Regions from separate parts of the Homo sapiens genome. Here region 2 is linked to region 1. Evidence: fine-mapped expression QTL. A gene starts in region 1. The other region holds a variant in brackets. All regions are shown on one strand. Distances are between the middles of the regions. Region 1 holds the start of HDAC10 (histone deacetylase 10). Region 2 overlaps TUBGCP6 (tubulin gamma complex component 6).

What was found. PIP is the estimated chance that this variant, and not a neighbour inherited with it, causes the effect. A credible set is the group of variants that fine-mapping cannot tell apart.
Region 2: its variant is the best candidate, but not a certain one, in a credible set for the expression of HDAC10 in liver (GTEx, PIP 0.78).

Annotation. Positions count from the first base shown.
Region 1 is chr22:50,248,643-50,253,998 of GRCh38, forward strand. HDAC10 (histone deacetylase 10) reads right to left here and starts at 2,623. Exons shown (of 20, transcript NM_032019.6): 1 at 2,332-2,623; 2 at 2,129-2,263; 3 at 1,785-1,881; 4 at 1,421-1,518; 5 at 1,218-1,322; 6 at 993-1,061; 7 at 686-812; 8 at 461-526; 9 at 189-248; 10 at 20-109. The coding sequence starts at 2,390. MAPK12 (mitogen-activated protein kinase 12) reads right to left here. Exons shown (of 12, transcript NM_002969.6): 12 at 4,259-4,838. The coding sequence ends at 4,759. RefSeq lists enhancers at 968-1,814, 3,469-3,638 and a silencer at 2,319-2,978.
Region 2 is chr22:50,225,616-50,230,936 of GRCh38, forward strand. It overlaps TUBGCP6 (tubulin gamma complex component 6), which reads right to left. Exons shown (of 25, transcript NM_020461.4): 4 at 3,789-3,962; 5 at 2,292-2,413; 6 at 1,384-1,462; 7 at 1,118-1,227; 8 at 672-763; 9 at 435-574; 10 at 179-328. Among named protein-coding and RNA genes, the nearest start is that of TUBGCP6, 17 kb to the right of the region's middle. The variant C/T (reference allele first, on the strand shown) is at 2,463.

The DNA.
Region 1 (5,356 bases):
GTGTGCCCTCCCCAGTCACCTCCAGCACGGCACAGACCCGGCCGCCGGCCAGCACCTGCAGCAGCTGTGTGAGGTGGGCGAAGCACTCTGGCGTGGCCTGCATTTGCCCCTGGAACCAGAGCCATGTGTGATGGGGGACCTGGGCCCCAGGACCCCAGAAGCCCTCCCTGGCAAGGCAAGGCCCTCACCTCAGGGTCCCCGATGGCTGAGTCAAATCCTGCCGAGACCAGCACCAGCTCAGGGTCAAACTACAGGCCAGGCCGGAGTGGGGAGGGTCGACAGAGAGGGGCTGGAGCCCAGGTGAGGGCGAGCCAGGCCCATCCCATCCCCTCCTGAGCACCTTCCCCAGCCACACAGGAGTGGGACAGCTCATAACCCTCCTCCTGCCTTCACTGGCGCACTCCAGGCACAAGGTCCCCCTCCCACCCGGCTGCCCTGGGGGAGCCCTCCGTGCAGTCACCTCAAAGGCCAGTGGGAGCAGCAGGTGCAGGAAGGCAGCCACGTAGTCAGCGTTTCCCATCCCAACCTGGCAGGACATCCCAGGCTACATCCTGAACTGTGGGGCAGGGGAGGGGCCCGGGGGAGGGGGTGGGTGGGGACCTGGGGCTTGAGGGTGAACTGTGGGGGAGGGGAGGGGCCCAGGGGGAGGGGGCTGGGTGGGGACCTGGGGCTTGAGGGTGGGCACCTGGTTCCAGGGCAGGTTGACAGTGAAGCCGAGGCCCTGTCCCCGCCCCACTGCGTCTGCATCTGACTCTCGCAGGAAAGGCCAGAAGCGCCCATGCTCATAGCGGTGCCAGGAGAAGTAAAGGACGCTGCCAACAGCCAGCCAGGGCCAGAGGTCAAAGGTCAGGACCCTCAACAGCTCTACAGCTCCCTGTAGAACGCTGACCCCTGAGCACATGTCTGTATCTCACCCCTGGATTTTCCCAGGCCAGGCTGTGCACCCAAAAACTGGGGCTGCAGGGAAGGGTGGTTTCCGCACCCCTGCTCACCTGGGGTCATCCTCAAAGAGATACTGGATCCCCTGGCCATGGTGCACATCCCAGTCCACGACGAGGATCCTGGGTACAGACAGCGCTGGTGGCAAAGGGGCAGGGCCTCCCACCTCCAGGAGCCCGGCCAGGGATGGGAAGGTGCTGGCTGGGTTCTCTCGCCTCCTGCGCTGCCCCTTGCTGTGTGGCCTGGGCCCACCCCCCTGCAGCCAGCCTGGCACACACCTGTGTAGCCCGTGTTTCTGCTTGGCATGTGCAGCTGCTATGGCCACGTTGTTGAACACACAGAACCCGTTGGCAGCCGCCCTCTGGCCATGGTGCCCGGGAGGCCTACGGCGTGAGAGTAGGATTTGGGTCACGTCAGGGTCGCCCTGGCCCCTCACAGGGCCACCCACGGAGGAGCAGCCAGGGGAAGGGGCAGCTCTCACCTCACCAGGGCAAGCCCATTTTGCACAGCTCCAGTGAGCACAGCGTCCACCAGCTGCAGTCCAGCCCCTGCGGCCAGCCGCGCGCAGTGAAAGGTACTCTGTGGGCGCAGGGGCGCAGATGAGCCCCCTGCCTTCCCTGCTGCCCTTTGCAGGCCATACCCACACTTGTGCCAGGCTGCAAGACACCAGCTGCTGAGCAGAACAGGCCAGCCCCAGGCTCTGGCAGTGCCAGCAGGCAGGTGTGCAGGGCAATGTCATGTGTATGGACCAGGGGACACTGGCTGGGGTTGGCGGCCGTGGCTGTGAACGCTCAAAGGCACGTGCATGTGTGTCTGCACAGGTGAGTGTGTCCGGGGACACGCACCGGGTGGAAGTAGATGGCGTCGAACTGTCCGGACAGCGCCTGCAGCTCCTCCTTGCCTAGGACCTGGGTCTCCCTGACCAGGGATACATACTCTGGGCTGCATGCAGATGGGCAGGCAGGAGAGGCAGGGTCACCAGCAGGAGCAGGGGGGCGGGAGGCGGGGACCTGGGATTCATGGTGGGAGTGGCCACCCTGTCACTTCCTCAAGCCTGTGAGCCCACCCGAGGTGCATAGGGAGAGGCTCTGTATTCGAGGCTGGCAGGCTCGGGGTAGGCCCAGGTTCTTAGGTTTCTAGCTGGGCTGCCCGCCCCGCCCCCCATCGTGGGGCCTGCCCCCGTCCTGACCTGTGCACCAGGCCCAGCTCCTCTTCCGAGGCCTCGCGGGCTGACAACCGCAGACACCTCTGTTCCAGGCCGCGCTGCCGCAGGCGATCCAGGGCTGCGGTCAGGCGCTCAGGACGCTCGATCTCGCACTCGGGGCTGGGGCAGATGAGGAGCTCAGTTCAGAGGTCCCTCCCCGCACCCCACCTCGGCCAGGTCCCACTTACTCGTCCCAGAGCAGCCGGGTGGCCGTCATGTCCTCATGGTACACAAGCGCGGTCCCCATGGCTGCGCCGTGGTCACCCTGGGTTCCCAAACGCCCTCGCTAGTGGTGCCTGCCACTGCCTGTCCCCACCTTCGGCCGGGAGCAGCCGGAGGCCTGGGACCTGCCTGGGGCGCAGGCGGGCGGCGGGCACCGGCCTGGGCGGGAGCGCACAGAACCTAGGCAGGCTCCGGGATCCCAGGCGCGCAGAAGGCACGGAGCGAGGCTGCAGTCGAAGGGGGAGGCTCCCCGCGCCTGGCTTCCGGCTTCCTCGCCTCGGACCTGGGTCCCGCCCCGCGCCCTGCTCCCGGTCGCTATCGCGAGCTCCGCCCCGGAGCGAGGAACCAGCGGGCGCGGAAGCCTCGGCGCCCCGAGCCGCCAGCCCTCGGAGCTGCGCTGCGGCTCCGCCTCCCCATTGGCCCCGCCCCGATCCCCTCCAAGAGGGGCGGGGTCCCCCGGCCTTAGGCGAGTGGTCGCCGCAGCCCCACCCGAACGCCCGTGGCCGAGCCTGCCCATGAGAGCCCCGTTCTGCACCAGCTGGGTCAGGGTCCAGCGCAGCCCCAAGGCCCACCCGGCCCGGGCGCAGGAAGACCTGGGGTGAAAGGCGAGGGGGGCGAGGGGTCTGCAGGGCAAAGGCCACGAGGCGGGAGGAGCCCGCGGGGAGGCAGGTGGCGCTGCGGCCGGCTCAGGGCGGTGGTCGTGGCTGCATGGAGGCGCAGCACCGCCCCCGAGGTTTAAGGAGGGAGTGAGTCCGGTTCTAGCTCCAAGAAGACCCCTGGCCCAAGAGCAGAGTCAAGGTCGGTGGAGGTGGGGACACTGGACCGGGGTTGCGGTAGCATGGTGGGGGACTGAGGAAGATAGGAGGCACGGGCACAGCCACGGAGGAAGATGCCCGAGAGGAAACCTGAGGCCCCCTGGAGCCCAGGGGACACCCTGCCCCCGCGGGAGTTCACATCCAGCTGGGTCACAGAATTTTGGGGCCCCCAGTCCTCAGGCCACCTATGGGCCCACACTTTGGGCCCAGTGTGGACAGCAGCCATGCCACAAGTCAGCGTGGCTCCGGAACTGATGGCGATCACGTCCCCCAGGCCCGGATGCCCTGGAGAGGCATGAGGGTCGCTGGGCAGAGAAGGCCCATCTGTCGTGGCAGCTCATCAGGTCCACTTTGGCTGGGCCAGCTGTGGGCATGTCCACCGAGGACACCTGGCCTGCCCTGCCCTGCCCCTCACTGGTCTCTCTGCTGTAACCCCTGCCCTGGGACAGGTTTGGAGGTGCCCATGGCCTGTGTTCCAGCCGCCACCCTTGGAAACACCGAGTGGCCTGCAGAGGGCGGCCTGGGCACGAAGATACCACTGGAGCAGGGTAGTAGGGGCTAGAGGTTTGATCAAGAATAAAACCCAGCCCTCTGCGCTCACCAATCCACCACAGGGGCCAGAGGGGTCTCAACATGTCCAATGTGCCCCGTCCCCCCAGGGACTGGCTGGCGCTCACCACTTCACCACAGGGGTCTCAACGTGCCCAGCGTGCCCCCTCCCCCCAGGGACCTGCTGGCATTGGAGGATGCAGAGAGCTAGGGTAGATCCTAACACTCCTCCCCATCAGGCCCTGCCCCTGGGTCTGGCTTCAGGATCCACACACAGTGGCTTAGAGTCTAAGCCATTAGCAGGTCACCCCGTAAAAGGGGAGGGGCCAAGCCCTAACGTGGGGGTTCGAAGATCACTGGCACAGGCCTGGGGGAAGTGGGCACCAGCTTTGTGGCCTGGGAGAGATGGGATGCTCAGGCCCCCCTCCTGGCTCTAAGGGTCTGAGCTATCAGGCCAGCCTCCTCTACATGCAGGCCAAGGGCCCGGAGGTCTTAAGGTGGGACCCGGCATGAGGACGCACAGCCAGAACAGGGAGCTACAAAAGGGTCTATTTCCTTCCAGCCACGCGGGCACCACACAGCTGATTTACATTCCAGGCTGGGGGTGCAGGAAGGTCCACTGACGTCGCCCAGGAGAGGGGATGTCCCTGAGTTGGTGCCCTGCGCCCACCCTCTGTCCTTCCTCTGCATGGCCCAGAGCAGGCAGGGCTCAGAGGCCAAGGCCTGATCTGGAGCCCCACCAGCTCTGAGGTTTCTGAGAGCACCGGGCAAGTGGGCCACTGCTCCAGGGATCAGAGGCCATCCCCAGGTCGGCCAGAGGTCTTGTCCAGAAAGTTCAGGTGCTCCTCCATGATGGGCGCCCAAGAGCAGAGGCATGGCCGTGGGGAGGAGGGTCCATGGAACCCGGGCGTCTGCTCTGATGGATGCCTTGGGATGCAAGCCCCAGCCAAGGTCAAGGTGGCAACGAGAGTCCCCTCTCAGGTGGAAGGTGAAGGTGGTCCTCACTGCCACCCCGGAGCCCAGAGATCTTCACAGAGGCGTCTCCTTGGAGACCCTGGCCCCCAGCTGCCGGGGAGGCTTGAAGCTGAGCACCTCTTTGTAAGTAACACCTGGCGGGGGTGGGGGGGCGGGCACAACAGAGAGGGGGGTCAGCCTTTGCCTTCCATCCTGGGAGTCGCTCACAGACACGCCTGGCGGTGCCTCGTGGGGCCCTTCTCTAATCCTAATGTGGTCTGAACCACTGAGAGAAGGTTTGTGTGAAGAGGCCATTGCTCTAGATCTGGATTTTCCAGGGAAAGGGGAGGTGGCCAGGGCTTGGCCACATGTCCACCACGGTCTGTCCTAAGAGCTGAGGCCTCAGCCACAGTTGTGTGGGTGGGGACTACAGAGAGGATCCTATGGCCCATGGCTTTCAAGTTATCTTTCTAGCAGCAGAAACCTTTAATCAAACAAAGCCAAACTCATAAGCACACGAATATGCACACAGCGAAGGGTGGAGGCCCTGCTGCGGGCACCCAGGGACCCGTGGTCGTAAGGAGCACATGTGAATCTCAACCCATCCAGCCCCACCCAGCCAGTGTGGAGGACCAAGGTCCCGCACCCGAGGCAGAGCCAGGACAGGGCCTGA
Region 2 (5,321 bases), 23 kb before region 1:
GACACCCACCCTTCATCTCAACTCCCCCTTGGCACCCACCCAGGCCACCGCCAGGACAGAAAATGCCAGAAGGGAGGCCCCCATCTTGCACAGCCCTCATGTCCGCCCCACCAACCTGAGACCCCAGGAAGCAGAGGCAGGGGCGAAGAAAGCCCCCGAGACCTGTGGTGCCACGCACCTTCTCCTCCTTGCTGACAGAGCTGTGGCGGGCCACCCTCTCCATGCGCCCAACGTAGACGGCACAGTCCTTCTCAATCTCCTTCAACTCCTCAAGGGAGAAAATCACCGAGATCCGGGGGACAGGGACGTCGGACCAACAGAGGTAATGCTGCCAAAGGGGATGCAAGCACAGCCACCAGCACTCAGCCCCAGCCTCATACTCAGCCCCAGGGAAGACCGGCCCCTCTCTTCCCCACACATGAGCCCCTCCTCACCCGGGGGCAGCAGAGCTTCAGCAGGTTAATGGTCTTTCCGCAGACGTATATGTCGTGGGCAATGTGCTTCAGAAACACGGGAACACAGTCCTCCACCTCTTTGGAGATGAGCACGTAGCCATGTGTCCAGTACAACTTATCTAAGGTAGGGTGAACACCACGGTGGCCGGCATGGCCATGGCCCTGAACCCAGGCCCACAGGCACGGACCCCTGCCCCGCAATCAGCTGCCACCTACCTCGGAAGCTGAGGTACTCGTGGTTCACCTGAATCATGAACTCGCCATAAGCGTCTCTGAACACCCCGCTGTACACCCAGTCGTGGATGAACCTGCAGTGGGGGAAAAGCAGGGGTAGATGTGGTCAACGGAGAGGTGGGTGGGGCGTGGCTGTCAGTGAGGGGTGGGACAGGGGCGTGGCTGTCAGTGAGGGGCAAGTGGGGGCGTAGCTGTGAGAGGTGGAGTGGGGTGTGGCCATCCATGAGGGGCGGGATGGAGTGGGGGCAGGGTGGGGGGTGTGGAGTGGGGGCAGGGTGGGGGGTTGGGGGCTCCTGCCCAGTCCACCTATCCTGCCCTCCCCTTCCTGTGTGACCCCCACATTCAGCAGGTGTCTGACAAGGGACCGCTCTCAAGTGTCTGCCTGGTGGGAGTGCGCGCCCGCCGCGCCTGCCCAGCCCACTGCCCACCGGGTGTAGGGCTCGCAGCTGGTCTTCAGCAGGGACAGCAGTACAGGGTAGTGCTCGTTGCTGCAGTTGTGCAGAGCCTCCTGGTAGAGGTAGGACAGCAGCTTCACGCCCTGCAGACCGCAAAGGGGGTGGGGGGCAGCTCAGCGCACCCAGCGCTGGGAGTGAGGCGCAGCCCTGCCGGCAGCAGCCCTCCAGGGACACGCTCAGCCACCCCCGTTTCCTGGAGCCCACCAGGCTGACACACTCGGCAGGGACGCACAACTCACGGTGGGAAACGCGGCCCTGGGGCCTCCTCCACAGGTGCCCGGGAGCACAGCGCCAACGCCACAGAGCTCGGCCAGGTACCTAGACCCAGAGGCAGGATGAGACCAGGTGACCGGGCTCAGGGTTCCCAGGCCTGGATCAGATCGTGAGCAAAGTCTCCACGTATCTTTATGCTCCCTGGGGCAACTAACTTTAGATGCAGGCTTTAAAAACCACAGGCACCCCAACCACCCAGAAACGGGCTCCCTGCAGGACTCGTGTGCAGCCCTGTGCCCCTGCGCTGTCCACACACACCCCACTGAAGTACCCACACCCAGCAGGCCCTCCCTCCCAGGATCTGGCCAACACACGAATCACCCTGATCCTCCCACTTCTGGGGGCTGCACCTGAGAGCCCCTCCCATCCACACAGTGGTACCAAGCATCTGCCACAACTCGCACCCTTCACAGCCCAGCTCCCCTGCCCCACAGTGTCTCAGCCCTTGGGTCTCCTCAGCGCTGCCACACTCTGCTCCTCAGCCTGGAAGGTCGCCTCTCCCACTGCTCCCAATGCCCAGCTCCTCACTCTTCCTTCTCTGATGGCACCTGCCAATAGCCCCCGAGCCTGGTTGCTCACTAACCAGCTTGTGTGTACCGGACGCCACATCTCCAGGGACCCTGTGTGCCAATTAGGCAGGAGCCACCGGACCTGGAGGGCCTGGATGGGGCCAGCTGTGGTGGGCCCACGGCAGACACACCCGCTCAGCACCGGGCACCTGGTGAACTCGGCCGGCCAAGGGCCATCCGGTCGCCTGCTGAGGGCTGTTCTCACAGGCCCTCCTTGCCAGGGAGCAGGGCAAACCCTCCACCACCCAGCAAGCCCCACACCGCTCCCGCAAAGTCCCCTGCTCAGCCGCCATGCTGAGGCTCACCTGAGCTGCCGGCCAAGTTTCTTGAAGAGAAAACCAATGGTGAGGAGGCTCAGGGTGGGCGGAGTGGAAAGGACGCAGGCCCGGTAATACTGCAGGTACCTCCTCAGGCCACTGGTGAAGGCCTGTGGGCAAAGAGGCTGGGAGGAGGGCGGCCAGGCACATGGACGCAGC[C/T]GTGCCCAGGGCCTGAGGGGCACCAGTGCTGGGAACAGCGCTTTGTTTCTTGCCTCAGCTCTGGGCTCCATTTCCAAGCAATGGGCCTCTGTGAGCCACACCCCGCCACCGGGCCAGGTGGAAATGCGGCCCATCCACAAGAAGCCAGAAGCTGTGGCCCACCACCAACCCTTCCTCTCATCTGAGCCCAGCTGCCCCAGGGGCGCCCACCACCAACCCTTCCTCTCATCTGAGCCCAGCTGCCCCAGGGGCGCCCACCACCAACCCTTCCTCTCATCTGAGCCCAGCTGCCCCAGGGGCATGGCAAAGGGGCTGGGGGGGAAATGGCGGCCGTGCTCTGTGCACAGACACTAGTGCTGTGAGGGCTGCAGCTGCTCCGACCACAGCTGTCTCAGTGGCACCAGCATCCTGGGCAACGCCACAGCAGCAGGCCCTGCAGGTCACACTAAGACAGGGGCACCCTGGACCAATCTCAGTCCACCCACCCCAGGAGCCGCCTGGCTATGCCTGCCAGATGAACAAGAACCACAGTCCAGCCCTTCTCAGCGTCCCCTGCTCTGACCCCTTCTCCACCATCTCTAGCTCTCAAGTCCCCCGGGGCTGAGCCTCTGCCTAGAAGCTCTCCCCGCCCCGTGCAGCTCCCACCATGCCCACCTCCACAGCCCATCTAAAACCTACACCTCACCACATCACCCCACCCGACAGCCCCTGCTGCAGCAGCAACAGTCAAAGGAGGCTGCGCTGCCTGGCTCCTCCAGGGCTCTCTGCCCACCTTCCCCAACACCCTCCTCTCAATCCCCCAAACCCAAATGCCCCATCATCCACCTGCCTATTCTCTCCCACTCAAGGTGCAGCCCCTGTCCCATGGGCCTCTTCCCAGCACATGAGCCAGCTTCAAGACTCACCAAACAGCAGCTTCCGGAGCCAGACTTGGCTCAGAACTCCCAGCAATGTAAATTCACCCAACAGGAGGGCCCTGCGCTGTCAGTCATCCACAATGTGCCGGGCCCACTGGGGAGCAGGCAGCAAGAGCCCCACTCACGCCTTTCCTGCCCTGCGCACCCCTTATGCTGGCTGCACCTGCCTCCTACACACCCCAGGGCCCACACAGCCCAGGGCCCACACACATCTGCCCCAAGTTTCTAGTGAGGTAAAACATCCTCACTGACCCATCCCTCAAGAGCCACTATCGGGTTTCAGATGTTAGCAAGGAAAGAAAAGGTTTAGACTCTCTGGTCCTGCAGAAGGACCTCTGAGATTCTCTCTTCCAGGTCGTGTGCACCGTTCTCACAAAGGTGTGTGACAACCATGAGGCAAAGGCCATACCTGGAACACGAGGCCCTTGCTGTACAAAGAGTCCAGGACGGGCTGCAGAGAGAAATGACTCAGGCGCGTGTAGCAGGTCCCATACTCGGCCACTTCCGAGAGCAGGCTGCTGATGCTCTCGGGAGACGCTCCTGACACGTGGACGCCCCGCTTCACCACAAAGGCCTGGGCCGGCTGCACAGGGGCAGAGGACACTGGTCACAGAGGCCAGGCACCCAGACCCCCAGTAAGGTGCCGTCTCCCTCCACCCTTGCACCCAACCCCACGCCACCTAGAGTGCCTCCAGGACCCAAAAGCAAATGCCCAGAAGGCATACCCAGAACTCCCACACCGAGGGACCAAACCGAGGCACAAATCCTCACTGACCACACTGAAAAATACATGTTTAAAATGCCAAGTGTAGAAAAGGGTAGAAAAAAACAGAACACCTTCCACAGGACACAAGTACACAGACAGCCTCCTGGGGCAGAAGCTATAAAACATGACGGCCGTGAGACCCGCTCATTTGACTCTTCGGGATGAATTAGAGAAATGATGGAAGATGCACAAAGACTCGCCACAGGACATTCTCCACAGTATGTTTATAACCAGAGAGTGGAGACCCCCAATAGAGGGCTCATGACAACCAAAACGAATGGGGTGTAGCAGAAGCCAGAAGGGAGGTTACAGCCGCAAATACCCACGTTAGAAAGGAAAAAAAATATCCCGCAATACAAAGGAACAAGATACCAAACCACAACAGCACCGTGTATACCCTAAAGAGATATTTTAAAAAGAGCTGTTAGGCCAAGCACAGTGGCTCACACCTATAATCCCAGAACTTTGGGAGGCTGAGGCAGGAGGATCACTTGAGCCCAGAAGTCTGAGACCAGCCTGGGCAACATAGCAAGACCCCCATCTCTAAAAAAATTTTAAAAGTTAGGCCAGGCATGGTGGCTCACGCCTGTAATCCCAGCACTTCAGGAGGCCAAGGCAGGTGGATCACTTCAGGTCAGGAGTTCATGACAAGCCTGGCCAACATGGCAAAGCCCCGTCTCTACTAAAAATACAAAAATTAGCCAGGCATGGTGGCGTGCACCTGTAGTCCCAGCTACGCAGGAGGCTGAGGCAGGAGAATTGTTGAATACGGGAGGCAGAGGTTGCAGTGAGCTGAGATCACGCCTTTGCACTCCAGCCTGGGAGACAGAGCAAGACTCCGTCTCAAAAAAAAAAAAAAATTAAAAATTAGCCAGCCGTGGTGGTGCATGCCTGTTGGTCCCAGCTACTCGGGAGGCTGAGGCAGGAGGATCAATTTGAGCCTAGGAAGTTGAGGCTGCAGTGAGTCATGTTTGAGCCATTGCACTCCAGCCTGGGTGATCCTGTCTCCAAAAAAAAAAAAAAAGAAAGAAAAGAAAAACAGGCTGGACGCAGTGGCTCACATCTGTAATCCCAGCACTTTGGGAGGCCGAAGCAAGCGGATCACTTGAGGTCAGGGGTTTGAGACCAGCCTCACCAACATGGTGAAAACCCATCTCTAATAAAAACAAAAATTAG